Regions from separate parts of the Homo sapiens genome. Here region 1 is linked to region 2. A link means that fine-mapping ties the variant in region 2 to the expression of a gene that starts in the linked region. Tissue or cell type: anterior cingulate cortex. Region 2 holds a variant in brackets; the other region holds the start of a gene. All regions are shown on one strand. Distances are from middle to middle.

Region 1 (9,720 bases), 28 kb before region 2:
CAGACTGTGAATCAAGTCTGACCTCAAGTAAAGGAGAGAGGGAAGGGAGTGTGTGGAAGCATCCCATACTGCCACACAGTCCAACAAAGCGTCAGCAAGGCTGTCGGGCTGTCTTTGAGCCAAAGATTATCTATCACCAGAGGACTCCCATTGTCACCCGGGGCCAGGCCTGCCTTAGTATTCCTGCCATGGTCAGTCATTGGGTGCAGCCCATGGGTAACATGGCTTTGGTGCCAATGCTTTGATGGATTTCAGAGTGCAGAAGCTGAGCCCTTGGTCAAATAACCTCCCTATAGTTGGAAGTCTGCCAGGTGCATACTCATGGTCACTATAGGATTAACTCACTTTTCCTCAGGAGCACCCTGTAAGATAGGTACTCTGGATATTATCTTCTCAGAAATGAGAAAACCGAGGCATAAAGAGCTTTGGACACTTGTCCAAGGCCACATAGATGGGAATGGAAAAGCCAAGATCGTTTCCTAGAACTGACCAAATTCAAAATTTCACTCTCAGTCCCTATTCTTCCACCTCCTTCCTGCTTCCCATAGTGATGCCTGCTTTCCCTGACGCCCCTTGGTGGCACCTCACCATTGTACCTGTGTGCACAGGAAAAGCACCTGTGTCCCTAATGACAGTGCTCTTTCCTGCGCCCTATTTTCTGTCTTCTGATGCCCCCAGAGATACCAGCCACCAGGATCTGGAGGATACTTTATTCCAGAATCCTTATAACACCTGGGTGTTGATGGCCTCTGAGCAGGAGCTACCTCTTAGGCAACAGAAAAGAGTGGGTTATGGCCTGTATTAGTTATCTTTTGCTGTGTAACAATTTTATCCCAAATGTGGCAGCTTAAAATAACACACATTTATTATCTCAATGTTTCTATAGGTTAGGGACAGCTTTGCTAGGCCCTCTTCTTCAGAGTCTCACAGGCTATAATCAAGGTGTTGGCTGTGGCTGCAGTCACATCTGAGGCTCAACAGTTGAAGGATCTGCTTCTGAGCTCATGTGATTATTGGCAGCATTCTGTTCCTTTCAGGCTGCTGGGCTGAGGGCCCCAGATTCATTGTTTCTTTCTTTCTTTCTTTCTTTCTTTCTTTCTTTCTTTCTTTCTTTTTTTTTGAGACGGAGTCTCACTGGGTCGCCTAGGCTGGAGTGCAGTGGCACAATCTCGGCTCACTGCAACCTCTGCCTCCTGAGTTCGAGTGATTCTCTTAACTCAGCCTCCTGAGTAGCTGGGATTACAGGTGTGTGCCACAATGCCCGGCTTATTTTTGTATTTTTAGTAGAGATGGGGTTTCACCATGTTGGTCAGGCTGGTCTCGAACTTCTGACCTCATGATCTGCCCGCCTCGGGCTCCCAAAGTGCTGGGATTACAGGTGTGAGCCACCGTGCTCGGCCAAAGGCCCCCCCAGTTTCCTGCTGGCTGTTGGCTGGAGCCTGCCCTCCGTTCCTTGCTGCGTGGTCTTCTCTATAGGGCAGCTCACACCATGGTGGCTTAGATCTTCAAGGCCAGCAAGAGAGTCTCCTAGCAAGATGGGTTACAGTTTTCTGTAATGCAATCACATACCTCCTAAAGCCTTTGGCTCATTCTATTGGCTAGGAGCAAGTCAGGTCCTGCCCACACAAGGGCAGGGACATAATGAGGTGGGCATTATGGGGACACCTTAGAGTCTGTCTGTCACACCTTCCTTATGGGTCAGCATCTCTAATGAGAACAACTCCTTGAACCTTCCCAAGTTTGGCTCTCCATGAAGTATAAGTTTGTGCAAAGACAGCCGGGTTGAGGCTTGACCCTTGGTGATTTCTCCAATCCTCCTTTCCTCCTGTGGCTCAAAAGTTCCTTTCCCTCATGGAGAGTGACTCAAACACATCAGATACTAAGAATGTGCCCATTTCACCAGCACATCACACTTTGACAGTGAACTCTAGTGGGCACAGCTAAGATCCTCTCCACATCCTGTTACACATATTTAAGCATGGGAATGATGGGATTGACCAGACTTTACAATAACTTCATTTTATTTATTTATTTATTTTTTGAGATGGAGTCTCACTGTATTGCCCAGGCTGGAGTGCAGTGGTGTGTGATCTTGGCTCACTGCAGCCTCCACCTCCTGGGTTCAAGTGATTCTCCTGCCTCAGCCTCCCAAGTAGCTGGGACTACAGGCATGTATCACTGTACCTAGCTAATTTTTGTATTTTTAGTAGAGACGGGGTTTTGCCATGTTGGGCAGGCTGGTTTCAAACTTCTGACCTCAGTTGATCTGCCTGCTTTGGCCTCCCAAAGTGCTGGAATTACAGGTGTGAGCCACTGCGCCTGGCCAACAATAACTTTAAAAAATAGCTTTATTGGCCAGGTGTGGTAGCTCACACCTATAATCCCAGTACTTTAGGAGGCCGAGTCGGGCGGATCATGAGGTCAGGAGATCGAGACCACCCTGGCCCTGTCTCTACTAAAAATACAAAACATTAGCCGGGTGTGGTGGCACCCACCTATAGTCCCAGCTACTTGGGAGGCTGAGGCAGGAGAATCACTTGAACCCGGGAGGCGGAGGTTGCAGTGAGCCGAGATTGTGCCACCTCACTCCAGCCTGGGCAACAGAATGAGACTCCGTCTCAAAAAAAAAAAAAAAAAAAAGCTTTATTGAGATATAATTAACCCACTTAGAGAGTATAATTCGGCCAGACATGGTGGCTCATGCCTGTAATCCCAGCATTTTGGGAGGCCGAGGCGGGCAGATCACTTGAGGTCAGGAGTTCAGAACCAGACTGCCAACAAGGCGAAACCCTGTCTCTACAAAAATACAGAAATTAGCCAGGTGTGGTGGCATACACCTGCAGTCCCAGCTACTCAGGAGGCTGAGGCAGGAGAATTGCTCGAACCCAGGAGGCAGAAGCTGCAGTGAGCTGAGATCGTGCCACTGCACTCCAGCCTGCACAACAGAGTGAGACTGTTAAAAAAAAAAAAAAAAAAGAAAGAAAAGAAAAAGAAAGAGAAAAAAAGAAAAAAAAAGAGCGAGAGTATAATTCAATGGCTTTTAGTATATTCAGAGTTTTACAACCATCACCACAATTAATTTTAGAACACTTTCATCCTCTTCCAAAGAAACTCCTAAGTTGTTGCCCCTAAATCCTCCTCTCCTTCAGCCTTAGACAGCCACTTTGTCTACCCTCCATCTCTATAGATTTGCTTATTACGGACATTTCATATAAAAGGGATCATATAATACGTGGTCTAGCTTCTTTCGCTTAGCATGTTTTTAAGTTTCATCCATGTCGTAGCATGCATCAGTACTTCATTTCCTTGTATAGACAAACCATATTTTATTTATCTATTCATCACTTGATAGACATTTGGGTTATTCACATTTTTTGATATTGTGAATGATGCTGCCGTGAACACCTGTCTACAAGTTTTTGTGCAGACATGTTGTGTCCATTTCTTCTTGGGTGGTAAGTAGGAGTGGAGTGATTGAGTCATATGCTAACTCTATGTTTTCTAAAGTGGTTGTACCATTTTATATTTCCACCAGCAGTGTATAAGGGTTCCATTCTCTCTCTCTCTTTTTTTTTTTTTTTTTGAGAGGGAGTTTCACTCTTGTCCTCCAGACTGGAGTGCAATGGCGCCATCTCAGCTCACTGCAACCTCCACTTCCCAGGTTCGAGTGATTTTCTTGCCTCAGCTGGGATTATAGCCACTTGCCACCACACCCAGCTAATTTTTTTGTATTTTTAGTAGAGATGGGGTTTCACCATGTTGGCCAGGCTGGTCTTGAACTCCTGACCGCAGGTGATCCACCCACCTTGGGAGACAGGCGTGAGCCACCACGCCCAGCCAAGGGTTCTATTCTCTTCACCTTCTCATCAACACTTGTTATTGTCTATCTTATTTGTTGTAGCCATCCTAATGGGTGTGAAGTGGTATCTCATTGTGGTTTTGATTTGCATTTTCCTAATGGCTAATGATATTGAGCACTTTTTCATGTGCTTATTGACCACTGTGTATCTTCTTTGGAGAAATGTCTATTCAGATCCTTCTCTCTCTCTCTCTTTCTCAGACTGCACTTGGCTTTATTGCTTTAAGAAACCTATTATTTCTCGCTTATCACCATCTAAACTTTTCTGTCTTCTTTAACGTTGAACTCCCTTCTTCCTTGCTTCATTTTACTCCCATAGCACTTTTCTCTATCTAGCCTACTACTGTAAATATTGATTTTAATAGCTGCCTTACCCCACTAGAATGTCAACTCCACGAGGACAAGAATTTTTGTCTCTTTTATTCACTGCTGTTTTCTCAGCATTTACAGTAGCACTTGGCGCATAGCAGAGAACCATTAGATATTTGTAGAAAGAATGAATACATCCTTCTGGAAGCATCAAGAATCAATATTAAATGACCTTTCCTCATTTTAAAATTGGGTTTATAATAACTTCTAATATATCACAAAAGAATCTGTGTTCATTGAAAAAACTTAGAAAGTATGCATAAGCATAATAAAAGTATAGATGCCATTTAGCAAGCGTACATTGCACACACTTCTGTGCTTGCCCAAAGTCACACAGGTAAATATAATAGTAGCCAATGTTTATTGAGGTCCTGTTAGGTGCCAGGCACTCTTCCATGTATCATCTCATTAATTCCTGCCAACAGCCTGTCTAAAGAGGTTGCTACTTTTATCATTCTCATCTTTCAATAAAGAAACCGAGGCAGGTTGGGCGCGGTGGCTCAAGCCTGTAATCCCAGCACTTTGGGAGGCCAAGGTAGGCAGATCACCTGAGGTCAGGAGTTCGCGACCAACCTGGCTAACATGGTGAAAACCCATCTCTACTAAAATACAAAAATTAGCTGAGCATGGTGTGTCTGGCGTCTGTAATCCCAGCTACTTGGGAGGCTGAGGCAGGAGAATTGCTTGAACCTGGGAGACGGAGGTTGCAGTGAGCCAAGATCGTGCCACTGCACTCCAGCCTGGGCAACAGAGCAAGACTCCGTCTCAAAAAAAAAAAAAAAAAAAAAGAAAGAAACGGAGGCACATAGATATGCTAAGTAACTTGCTCACATGTACACAGCTTGCTGGTGGCAGAGCCAGGGCAGAACCATTGCACTACACTGTCTCTTGTTCTCTCTCTCTCTTCTTTTTTTTTTTTGGGACGAAGTCTCGCTCTGTCGCCCAGGCTGGAGTGCAGTGGTGCGATCTCAGCTCACTGCAAGCACCGCCTCCCAAGTTCACGCCGTTCTCCTGCCTCAGCCTCCCGAGTAGCTGGGACTACAGGCGTCCGCACCACGCCCGGCTAATTTTTTGTATTTTTAGTAGAGACAGGTTTTCACCATGTTAGCCAGGATGGTCTCTCTCTCTTTTTTGAGACAGGGTATCGCTCTGTCATCCAGGCTGGAGTGCAGTGGCGCCATCACTTGAGGCTCACTGCAGCCTTGACCTCCCGGGCTCAAGTGATACTCCCATCTCACTCTCCTGAGTAGCTGGGACTACAGTCTGCGCCACCACGCCTCGCTAATTTTTGTATTGTTATTAGAGACAGGGTCTGGCCATGTTGCCCAGGCTGGTCTCACACTTCTGAACTCAAGCAATCCTCCCGCTTTGGCTTCCCAAAGTGCTGGGATTACAGGCATGAGCCAACTCGCCAGGCTCTTGTTCTCTTTATGCAAAATAATTAAGCACCTTCTTCGATGATTACCGTTTTCTTAATACAAAATAGCAGAAACTTCTCCCAGAGGTCTTTTAAGACACAGGTGGTTTAACTTCTACTGACTCTATTTATATTCTTTTTTGTTTGTTTCTTTTTTCCTTTCATAAGCTTTGGGAAGCATAATAACCAATCATTCCATATTCATTCATATTACTGCAAAATTACTTTGAAGATTGTCAGAATGATGTTCTATTTGTCCAAGAATCTTTCGGAGTAGGGCAGGTCATAGTACCTCCTGTCTGTGGGAGGCAGAACGGAGTTTTGCTGTGGTTCCAGATTTCCAGGGATTCACAGACCTGGCTTCAATTGTCTTTGCAATTTATTATCCCTGCGACTCTAGCTAAATGACTTAACCTCTGTGCCCACCTCACCGTGCCTGGCACAGAGTAAAGATGTGGGAGCAGAGAGACAGGATCCGGGCTCATTCCCCAGCTTTGCTCCTGTGTGGTCTTGGGCAAGTCCCTTCACCTCGTTGGGCCTAACTCTGCCCAGCTGTAAAATGGATGAGACCGCCCCCCCCCCCGCCCCGCCAGGAACTCCGAGGTTTCTTCTGGCTCTGACGTTCTGGGCTCTGTGCCTACCTCCCAGCTGTGAAGAATGGGCACTAAGGCGATGTCTCGCTCACAAAACCATTTTTGTTGAAAACGATAAATCCCAGGTAGGGATTTACGGGGGATATCGGGTGAGGCCTGGACGGCCGTGTGGGGAATAAGATGCGCGGCTATTTCTAGGCAGGGGATGGGCGTGGCGGGCGGCGGGCCGGGTGTGCTGGCAGCGCAGCATCCCTGCGGGCGGGGAGGGCGTCTGCAGATGAGCTCGGAGGCCGAGGCCCGGGAGGACCGCGGATGCAGCGGCTGCGCACTGGTACGACCAGCCGGCCGATTTGCGTGTCTCCGCCCCTACAACGAGCTGGTTGGGGGGCTGTTCTGGTGCCGCGCGCCGATTGGATGAGAGGCCCGCCGCTCAGGCCCTGGAGCGGACGGTTCCTACTGCGGCTGGGCACCGGCTCCGCTCCCGCGTCTGCCCGCGCTCCAGCTGCGCCTGGCCCGGCCCCGGCCCGGCTCGGCGTGGCCCCGGCCTCCAAGCGAAGGCGCCGCTGCCGCTGGGCCGCTCCCAGGGCCATGAGGAAGCGGCGGCAGCCACTGCGGCCCGCGTCAAGGTGACCGGCCGGGACTGCGGCGGCGGGGAGAGCGGCGGTGAGAGGCGCGGCCGACGGGGCGGGGCGGGGCGGGGCGGGCCCTGAGGCCGGGCCTGAGGGAGCTGCAGGTGTGGGGGGCGGGACCCCGAGGGCCGCCGAAGCCGGGGAGGGGCCTCGGTGCGGGAGGCGGGGCCGGGGCCGTGCCTGCGGGTGCCCGGCGCCGGGGCCTGGCCGGGGTCCGGGGGTTCTGGGGTCCGGGGCCAGGGGCGCGCTGGTCCCCGGGAGCGTGAAGGACGGCGGGGAAGAGGCGCGGGCGCGGGGGGCGGGGCCGGGGGGGCAGTTGGGCGGGGCGCCGCGGCTGCAGGTGCGGGGGGCGGGGCCGGCGGGGCTGCCGTGGGCGGGGCTGTGGGGTGCGGCCCGCGCTGGACCCAAGGAAAGCACAGGTGCGGGGGGCGGGGCCCGGGGACCTGCAGCGGTGGGGGGCGGGGCCCGGGTGGCTGCGGTACGGAAGCAGGGCCCCAGGTGAGGAGCAGGCGAGGGTGAGTGGTCGCCCGAGAAGGAAAGGCCGCCCTCTCCGCTGCCCAGGGGTGCTTGGGTGGGAGCGGGGGCTTTGGGCTCCCTGAGGATTCTGGGGGCATCCGGGGCTGCCGCTAGAAGGGCCGTCCGGGCCTGCCTGTGCCTCTGCTGACTCGGGCTTGGAGCTCAGCTGCCCTGGTTACTGGCCGGTTGCCTCCCCTATGCTACGCCGCGCCCTAAGTGGGGCGCGCTGTTTTTCGCACCTCAGGGGCTTTCCTGTTGCTATTGAAGGGGCTTGCCAGGATGCGGGGGGCGGGGGGTTGGTTGTCATTGGATGATCGGTTGTTGAAAAATGTGTGTGCTTGAAGAGTAGTATGAGGCTTGGGAGGGGTCCTGGCTTGCTGGCCACTGGTACCAGAAGCTGCTGTAGATCTCAGCAGTGCGTCTCAAAAAGACTGAAATGGCAGCCTGTTAAGTGGGGAGAGCAGGGATGAGAATTCAGAAGCTTTTGACTATGCTACCTGGGAGAGTTTTTCACCTGTTTCCTCCGTTGCAAAATGAGCATGTTAGTACCTGCCTGTGTGCCTCCCAGGGGCCTGGTGAGGATAGGATGAAACAGTGCCTACTGAGCAAATCGCTGGATAAAGTTATGAGTTTCCTTTTTCTTGTGCCGATGGGCAGGTTGGATTCAGGGACTGGAGAGTCTAAAGAAGAGAGGGTTTGTTTCTAGTTAAGAGGTGAGACTAGACCACTGTCTTTTCGCAGTTTGGGATGAGGTTTTGTTGGGAGTTCCCAAAAGACTCAGCCGTGTCTTGGATCGTGACTGCTTCTCTCTGCGAGGCCTCTGAGGGAGCTGCTGCAACGCAGGGAGCAGTGGCAAGTGGAAGCAGCAGAACATTTGTTTGCTGACCTTTAGACCCCAACCCCGGTGAGGACTCTGAGCTGGAACATAAAGCTCAGGCCTGAGGCTATGGAAGTCCCTCTGCCCCCATCCAAGTACAGACCCCGATTTTACCACATTCCAAGAGGGTCGGGCGCGGTGGCTCACGCTTGTAATCCCAGCACTTTGGGAGGCCAAGGCGGGTGGATCATTTGAGGTCAGGAGTCCGAGACCAGCCTGGCCAACATGGTGAAACCCCCTCTCTACTAAAAAATACAAAAGTCAGCCGGGCATGGTGGCGGGCACCTGTAATCTCAGCTACTCAGGAGGCTGAGGCCGAGAATTGCTTGAACGTGGGAGGCGGAGGTTGCAGTGAGCCGAGATCGTGCCACTGCACTCCACCCTGGGCGATGGAGTGAGACTTTTCCATCTCAAAACACACAAAAATCCCCAAAAGAAGACCCCCAAAAGAAGGCAATGCCTGACTCCACTGTGTACCCACAGGGGCGGGGAGAAGGAAGCAGGATGACAGGGCTTTTTCTGAATTTCAGAAGAGTGTTGTATACCCATATATGTGACCTTTCAAAGCCCAGTGCCTCTGCTCACTGGTAGTTGACCAGTCCAAACTGTAATGCCTCCTACCTTCGTTGCATGGACAGAAGTGAAGGTAGGTGGAGCCTTCTCTACTAACCTGAATTTTTTTTTTTTCACTGTAGAAGCTGTGGGACTTTAGGGGCCAGGAACCATGGTGCTGGCCTCCCTCATTACCACTAGTTGGTGCAGTGGTGACCCAGTAGCATTGAGGGGATTAGGCCCTTACTGGTGCCTGTGCTTGTGTGGCAGGTCCCAGAGGATCTAGAAGCAGCATGTGAGAGTTCTCCCACTCTGTCTTGGCAGAAGCGGTGTTAATGGCTCTCAGAGACTGCTGCTGTCTGAGTGACCATCATGCTCTTTGGGTTAGAAGGAAAGCTCAAACTTGGTGGCAAAGAAGACCTAGAACATGTGTTGAATAATGAGGGGATTAGCAACATTCAGGGTGGAGAGAAATACTTCATTAATGAAAAATACTGCATGTGAGGCTCTGTGATATGGCCCACCTCTTGAAATGGATTTTCCTTTTCAGTATGGAGGGTAAGAGCTCAGACTTGGAAGTCAGTCAGGTCTGTTTGAAACTGCAGGCTGCCACCTCCTGCTGAGTGAACCAGCACTACTTCCTTAGCTTCACAGAGCTTTGGTTTCTTTATTTGTAAAGCAAGGATAACCATGCCCACCTTGTGAGGTTGTTATGAAGAATAAATGAGACGGGAGGGGAGAAGGCACCTGATCCACCTGGTTAGGGTCCTGTTCTGTCTCTCACTGCCTGCCCATCTTTCAACACAAGCTACTCAGAACAGCATGTAACATGCAAGGAGAGCAGGACAGGGAATTCTGAGGCCTCTATTTTTTATGTAACCTTGAACAAATCCCTTCCTGTCTCCAGA
Region 2 (8,000 bases):
TACAGGTATGCACCACCAGACCCAGCTAATTTTTGTATTTTTAGTAGAGATGGGTTTCACCATGTTGGCCAGGCTGCTCTTGAACTCCTGACCTCAGGTGATCCGCCCACCTTGGCCTGTCAAAGTGCTGGGATTACAGGCATGAGCCACGGCTGGAACAGCACATCTTTTAGTGCATGTAGTTTAATCTCAATGGATTAAACTGCTGTGAGTTGGAATTTCTATTATTAAATTATGAAGAGTTCTAAAAATAAAGGAGATCTGTTGTAAGGGAAAACATGATAATAGGTTGAGACAAAATTCTAAACCATTTCTCCAATACCTAAGGCTTTGGGAGGAAGGATGAGAGAGTGGGGAAACAAGTGCACTTAAACATAGGGCACACAGAACATGGCCACATAGCTATTCATTGTGTTACAGAAGGAGAGATAAGGGTTCAGTTTTGACTATTGGAGATCAGAACTTATATTAGGACTAGATTTGGTTGCCTATAATAATGCCTGAATGACAATGGGTTTACATCCTCACATAAAAAAGTAAAAAGATGGGCAGTCTAGGGTTGGTATAGTGGGATCAAAGATATCATGGACCCATGTTCCTTATATCTTGCCACTCTTCCATCCATAGCAGATTGCCTCCTGACCCAGTGTGGTTGCTTGAGCTCCAGTCATCACATCTGCATTCCAGGATTCAGAGGAGAAAAGGAGGAAGAAGGATGTGCCCCTTCCCTTCTGAGACACTTCTCAGAAGTTTTACATAGCTTTAACATGTGCATCTCCTTGAGTAGAGCTTAGCCACACTGAGGTGTGAGGGAACCTAGGGGTGCTTGGCTAAAGATGGGAGCTAAAGAAGACAAGGAGAAAGAAAGGAACTTGGCCTCAAAAGATAATCCCTACCAGGATGCAAGTTACAACAACAGGTTAAATGGCAGAAAGGTCACAAAGATGGATAAAACCAGTGTCAGGAAGTGAATGGGGGAGGTGGGTGCTCCTTTACATTACTGGTGGGAATCTGAATTGTTCAACTTTTGGGGAACATGATCTGAAGATACCTAATGTTAAAATATCTGTGTCTGGCAATCCAGCAGTATACTTCTGTGAGTCTCTTCTGCAGAAATAAAGCACTGATGCAAAACGTCGTACATACAATGCCATTTTCTGCATCACTGTTTATAGTGGCAAAAAGGTGAAAAGAAGGGGAGCACCCATCAGCAGTGTTGGAAAGGAGCCAGCTCTCTAGAAATTGGCACGAGAGAAGGCCAGGATATATTGTTAGGTTTAAAAAATCTGCTACCCTACCTGAGGAGCTCTGTCTAATCTCCCTCTCTGATGCTTGCTTTGGCCAGTTGAATACGCTACACCTTTTGAAAATGTGAAGTTTTAGGTGGTGTAGTAGCCATAGGCCCTGTCTGTCCCTATTCTGTTAAACCTCCAGCTTCACCATTGACGTGATCTGTCTGGGCCCAGCAGGCATGGAGGCCATGACCCTGGTCTCTGGCATGAGCCCAGCATGATTACATGTTGGTAGGCAGAAAGGCATGGAGGAATGTGCTCTTGGTGGCTCAAAGTGAGGTGGGTGGAAGGGGGAGGGCGTACAAGGAAGGGTGGGTTGATGGCTTCTTATTTGTACACCCCTACTGGGTTTGGCTATAGCAATAAGGATATGTTTTCAAAGTAGGCTTGCTCAGAAAAGGCTTTGCGAGTCATGGAAGCTGTGGGTGGCCACAGCTGTGACAGTCCAGTGAGGAAGATGAACACACACTTCACGACAAATGTTTTGAGTGTTGTGGAGAAGTCTAGATGCTCTAAAAGCTGTAGGAGAAGGACCTACCTAGGGCATCACTGAGATTTCCCACAGGAAGTGACATTTAAATGAGAATGGAAGAGTAGGAAAGAGCCAGGAGTAGAGGAGGGAGGAGGGTTTTAGGGAGACAAACTAGCCCCCGTTTTTGCTGGTGGTGAAAGAAGCAGGCTGGGTGTGGCCAGGGATGTGCCTGAATGACCTTCTGGGACCTGATGTGGTATCCACAAATCTCTCCTTCCTTGGCTGAGCTGTACCTACAGCGGAGCCACTTCTAAGGGCTGGAAGTGGGAGAGGGGGGCAGAGGGTCTGCACTTCAGCACAGAACATGTTCCCCTGATGGGCTCTGTGATCCTCATTGCTCCCCAGTCCTGCAGGGTCGCATGTGTCTGTCAAGGCACCTTCTCTCCTTCCAGTCCCTTTGTACTATCCTTCAGCCTTTTGGGACAGCAGAACCAGGCAGCTTGGGTGCTCATGGGGTGGCTTGAGCATCACAGGCTCACTCTGACCTTTCTCCTTTCCATAGTAGGCAGGGGAAGTATTCATTCATTTTTATTGAGAACACAATAGACTATGCTGGGCACTGTGCTGGAAACTGGGGATGAAATAACAGTATTTGAACATGTATCCCATGCCAGGCACTGTGATCAACACTTATTGCACAGAGATGGCTTCAGTTAAGGAACTTAACACATATAGAGCACTTAGACGAGTGCTTGGCACCCCCAGTACTCCTGAGCACCAGCTGTTGCTATTAGTTAATCCTTACCACAGCCACATGAGATGGGTACAATCCTGTATGCCCACTTTACAGAAGGGGAAATAGAAGCCAAGAGGCACTTGCCACATAGGTGGTAGATGGCAGAGCAGGATTCAAACCCAGGACAGTTGGACTTCCAAGTCCTGTCCCTCTCTGAGAGTGAGTGAGACAGACATAGAGGGTGAATGGGATAGACATGACCCTCGCTTTACAGAGCTCTTATGGTTGAGCAGGGAGCAGCCGCATTGGCATGTCAGAGTGACAAGCGTTGCGGAGGGCTAAGCAGAGAGCCTGCAGAGGAAGGCCATGGACCCAGGCTGGAGGCCTGTTGGGTGGAGGGGAAGGAAACAGTATTCTAGGTAGAGTCCTCTGCGATCAAAGTCACTTCCTGCTCACCTAAGGGATACGTTTCATTCGCCTCTGGGCTTCAGCGAGGAGGTACTAGTTCAGTCGTCTGTGTACAAGCTATTAATGATTAATAATTTGAGTGCAGGGGTGTGGCTACTCATCCAAGCCAGTGTTCTGGGATCTTATCTCCCAGGCACTCCCATTGAGGCTGACCCCTCCTTTTCCAAGCAACCTGTGCCCTGAGGTCCTGTCACACTTCTTTACCATGTGCAAATAGCCTGGGTTATGAATCTGTGCTGCCCAGCCCGCCTCTCACTCCACTTCTGTTGAGTGAGTGAGTACATTCAGATGTCGTGTTGGACTGTTCCATTGCACAGTTAGAAATAAAGAAATGAAGCATCATTATAAACCTATGATTGAAAGTCCAAGCCACGTAAATTCTGCTACGATCCTGCCACCTGCCACCCCAACATACTGAATAGTGTTTATGTTTGTGTACTTTTCTTCAGTCCCTGTCCATTGGGCAGGTGTATGTATATATATAATTTTTTTTTTTTTTTTGAGATGGAGTCTCGCTCTGTTGCCTAGGCTGGAGTGCAGTGGCGCGATCTTGGCTCACTGCAAGCTCTGCCTCCCGGGTTCACGCCATTCTCCTGCCTCAGCCTC[C/G]TGAGTAGCCGGGACTACAAGCCGCCCGCCACCATGCCCAGCTAATTTTTTTGTATTTGTAGTAGAGGTGGGGTTTTGTCGTGTTAGCCAGGACGGTCTCGATCTCCTGACCTCGTGATCCGTCGAACAGGTATATTCTTATGCTGTTGTGTACAAAAGTGCATCTTGTCTCTTGCTTTCTCGGCATGGTTGTATGAAATTGAGTAGTTAGGTGATTGGCCACCAGGTGGTGCTGCAGCACCAGGCACCAGACCCGAACCTGGGAACCGCTGTCTTTAAATACCCAGCTCTGAGCCATCCTTGTCTGTGTAAGTTCATTTTCAGTTTTTTCCTCTAGGTGCTGTGCTGCTCATAAATGTTTTCCATACCTATTTCAAAAGAAACCAGAAAATATTGAAGTGTACAGAAATAGAAAGTAAAAGTGCCATACAATAATGCCATTAAGAGGCAGTGATATTAACAGTTTAGTGAATATCCTTCTATACTTCTATATGTGTGTTCACATGTGTTATAAAGATTTTAAAACATGTTCAAGTGTCATTTTCTCAGTGAGGACTTCTCATATACGCCCCCCCCCTTTAAAATTATGACTTCGTCTAGTTGTGGGGGGGGGTTGTTGGGGAAGGAGGGATGATTAATGGATTCAAAGATAGGAAGAAGATTGGATAAGATCTAGTATTTGATAGCACAACAGGGTGATTGTAGTCAATAATAATTTAATTGTACATTTAAAAATAACAAAAGGAGTATAACTGGATTGTTTGTAACACAAAGGATAAGTGCTTGAGGTGACAGATATTCCATTTACCCTGATGTGATTATTACACATTGTATACCTGTATCAAAATATCCCATATACCCCATAAATATATGCACCTGCTGTGTACCTGCAAAAATTAAAAATAAGTGTAAAAAAAAGAGAAAATTATGACCTGTCTCCCACCCTGCCTACTTTTCTCTGCTTTACTTTTTTCTTTATCACTTACCATGAGCTGGCAAGCCTTGTCTTTTGCTGAATGATTTACTTAGTGTCTGTTTCCCCCACTAGAATATACTGGGGGTTTTGGGTTTTTTCTTCACTGCTCTATCCCTAGCATCTAGGACAGTGCTTGATATATACTAGCTTTTCAGGAAATAGTTATTGAATGAAAGCATGAAAGTGAGTGTGCCCTGAGTTTATGGACATTGCTCTCTGTCAGGAAGTATTGATCTCCCTCACCTTTTTATCTACCACTTAGTATCCCATTGAATGGATGTGTTCTAACTGTCTTTACTGTGGTTTTCAAGTGTTTTCCTGGCTTTTTTGTAGCCAGTGTTACAGTCAGTAGCTTTCCTGGAACATATACTCTCTGGTTATCTATTTGATGATTTCCTTGCTTTGTTTGAACTCTGGGCTTAGTGCTTTACAAAAAATAGCTCATATTAATCCTCACACCAACCCTCTAAGAAAGATGCTGCTCTTAGTTTCTCCTTTTCACCTGATGAGAAAGCTGAGGTTTAGAGAGAACAAACCCCCTGTTCAGGTCCACCCATCTTCCGAGTGTTGAGCCATCCTGTATTAAGGATGTTAATTCATCATCTGTCATGTGACATCACAAACACCCTTTTCCCAGTTTATTGACTGCCTTTCATTTTTTTCATGATGTCTTTTCCTTTATAGAAGTTTTAATTTTAATGTAGCTAAATCTACCAGTAGTTTTCTGGCTTTTGTATCACTCTTAGGACTTTTTTTTTTTACCTCCAAATTATTTTAAAAATTTGATCTGTGTTTTCTTTAGTATTTTTCCTTTTTTTGTTGTTAAGTCTTGAATCCATCAAAAGTTTATCCTTATATATGATATTGAGCAAGATTTTAAACAAATTCCTCTTTTTCCCAAGTGAATAGTAAATAGTTTCATCAACATTTATTGAAGAATCTATCTTCTCCACTGTTTGAAATGCCTCTTGGTTATATGCTACTCCTCACATATACTGGATCCTGTGTTCTGGACTGTGTCTTGTCCTGCAAATCTGTTTCTCTGTTTCTTTGCCATTTATCATTGACTGTGGCTTCCTGGCAGGATAAGACTCTTCTTACTGTAGTTCTTTTTTGAAAATGTCTTAGCTGTTTTTAATTATTCTTCCAGATGAAATTTTAAATCAATTTGTTGAGTTCCAAAATGAATCCCCTTAGGATTTGGAGTGAACTTACATTTTATTTATAGATTGATTGGGTGGAATTGATGGCTTTACAATACTGTCTCCTTATTCCAGGGAGTGAAATGTCTCTCCTTTGATTTAAGTCTTTTTTTTTGTCTTTTAGTAAGGTTTTATAATTTTCTTTAAATGATTTTTGTACATTTCTTTTAAAGTTTATTTCTGGATATTTTTCTCTTTTGTTAGTGGGCTCTTGGGCCATTACGCTTTCTAGCTGGCTATTGTTTGTACAGAGGAAATTGTTGATTTTATAGCTGGATAGATATCATTCATAGATTTCTCTCTAGTCCACTTCCATTTGCTTGAAATCTAGAAATTCTTAATAATTTATAGTTCATTGATGTCATCCTTTTCTGTATTTTAATGCTGCAACAGATTTTTTCCTTTTTTTCTTTTTTGAGATGGAGTCTTACTCACTCTGTTGCCCAGGCTAGAGTGCAGTGGCGCAATCTCAGCTCACTGCAACCTCCACCTCCTGGATTCAAGCGATTCTTCTGCCTCAGCCTCCTGAGTAGCTGGGATCACAGGCATGCACCACCACGCCCGGCTAATTTTTATATTTTTAGTAGAGACAGGGTTTTGTCATGTTGGCCAGGCTGGTTGTGAACTCCTGACCTCAAGTGATCTGCCCTCCTTGGCTTCCCAAAGTGCTGGGATTACAGGCGTGAACCACCGTGCCTGGCCTTATGTTTTATTTATTTGGTCCTTTCAGCAGGACCTGGAGAGTGGAAGGCAAATGGGTGGACTCCTCTCATTATCTTCATAGTCTATTAGTCGAGGTTGATGTGAAAGTGTCATCTGTCCCTGTGCCTTTCTGGCACCTCCAACCCACACCATCAACCCTGCAGTGCTCTCCGTGGAATGTGGGCTGACCCTGAAGAGCCTTAGAAACTGGGTGCAGGTTTTCCGTTTTCCTGTCACCTGGGGTGTGCCCTTTACTCCTGAAGTCTTTCTCCTACCGCTGCCTGGACTGCTTTCACTGCCCCTTTTCCAACCAGACCTTGCCCACCCTGCCTGTCTCTGTAGACAGCTTCCTTCTTGTTTTAAGGGAAGGACCAGGCTGTTCATTATGAAAATTAGGTCGTAGGGCCAGGACTCAATGCTGTTTGTCAACAAGGCCCAATAATGTAATGTGGGTATCCTGTTCTGCCAACCTAACCCTTGCCTCAAGGTTTCTGAGGTACCTCATCGCAGAAGGAACAGCAGCCAAGGAGAACTCAGAGACCCTCATTATAAGCCTGGCACCCTAACACAGGACCCTCTGGTCAAAGCTGGGTTGGAGCAGGTAATGGGCTCGCAGCCCATGGGGGCCTCCCACTTGCCTGAACTTGATCTGTGTCTGGGTCCCTTACCATCCGCCAGCCAGCAGCAGTGTATGGGACATGCAGGCCTGGTGGGCACCCTTAGGCATGCACGCAGGAGTCAGAGAGGGGCTGAGCTCAAGCAGAGGCCCTAGTTCACCACACATCTCACAGCAGCAGTGGAGAGAAGAGAAGGCCTTGAATAGGTGATGATCTTTTGGCACTTAGTGACACTAATGGATGTGGTCCTATCCTGACCTGGCTTGGTACCAGCCAGACCAGTAATGCCTCTGCCTTTGGCAGGATCTAAGAGGGAGGGAAAAGGAGGTCAAGACCCCCTGCTCCCTACACGCCTCCACAGTCCACCTTAGATGGTTTCTGTTTGGCCCACACGTAACAGGTGTAAAATGCCTGATTGTCAACACCCAGGGCTGCAGTCCTCCCATAATGGTTTTTCACAGGAAATGTTGAGACCCCTGTTTTTAGACCTATTCCTAAGGGAGACTATGGGGAGGGAAATTGGGTGGGGAGGGAGGGTGGGATAGGATATGAGAATATAGAATCCTTAATTTTTTTTTAACTTTTTATTTTGAGATTATTTTAGATTTATAGAAAGGCTGCAAAACAGTACAGAGCTTACATAACCACAGTACTATTATGAAATTAATAGGTACCACACTGTTTACTGAACTACAGACCTTTTTCAGATGTTACCAGTTTTCCCCACAGTGTCCCTTTTCTGTTTCAGGATCCAGTCTAGGGTCCCTCAGTGCATTCAGCCATTGAGTCTCATCAGTTTCCTCTGGTCTGTGATAGTTCCTTAGTCTGTCCAGAAGGTATCAGCTGAGCCTTGGTGGATGAAATTTAGAGTCTAGTTTTGGTGATTCTATTTGTCAAGCCTATAGAGTGAAAGAGTCTCATCTAGCCCT

Evidence for each region.
Region 1: RALGPS1 starts here. The variant in region 2 is fine-mapped to the expression of RALGPS1 in anterior cingulate cortex (GTEx, PIP 0.93).

The regions. Positions count from the first base shown.
Region 1 is chr9:126,908,112-126,917,831 of GRCh38, forward strand. It overlaps RALGPS1 (Ral GEF with PH domain and SH3 binding motif 1), which reads left to right and starts at 6,671. Exons shown (of 19, transcript NM_014636.3): 1 at 6,671-6,864. RefSeq lists a silencer at 6,643-7,072 and enhancers at 7,563-7,632, 8,926-8,975.
Region 2 is chr9:126,936,989-126,944,988 of GRCh38, forward strand. The region is part of intron 1 of RALGPS1 (Ral GEF with PH domain and SH3 binding motif 1); the gene reads left to right. Among named protein-coding and RNA genes, the nearest start is that of RALGPS1, 26 kb to the left of the region's middle. The variant C/G (reference allele first, on the strand shown) is at 3,575.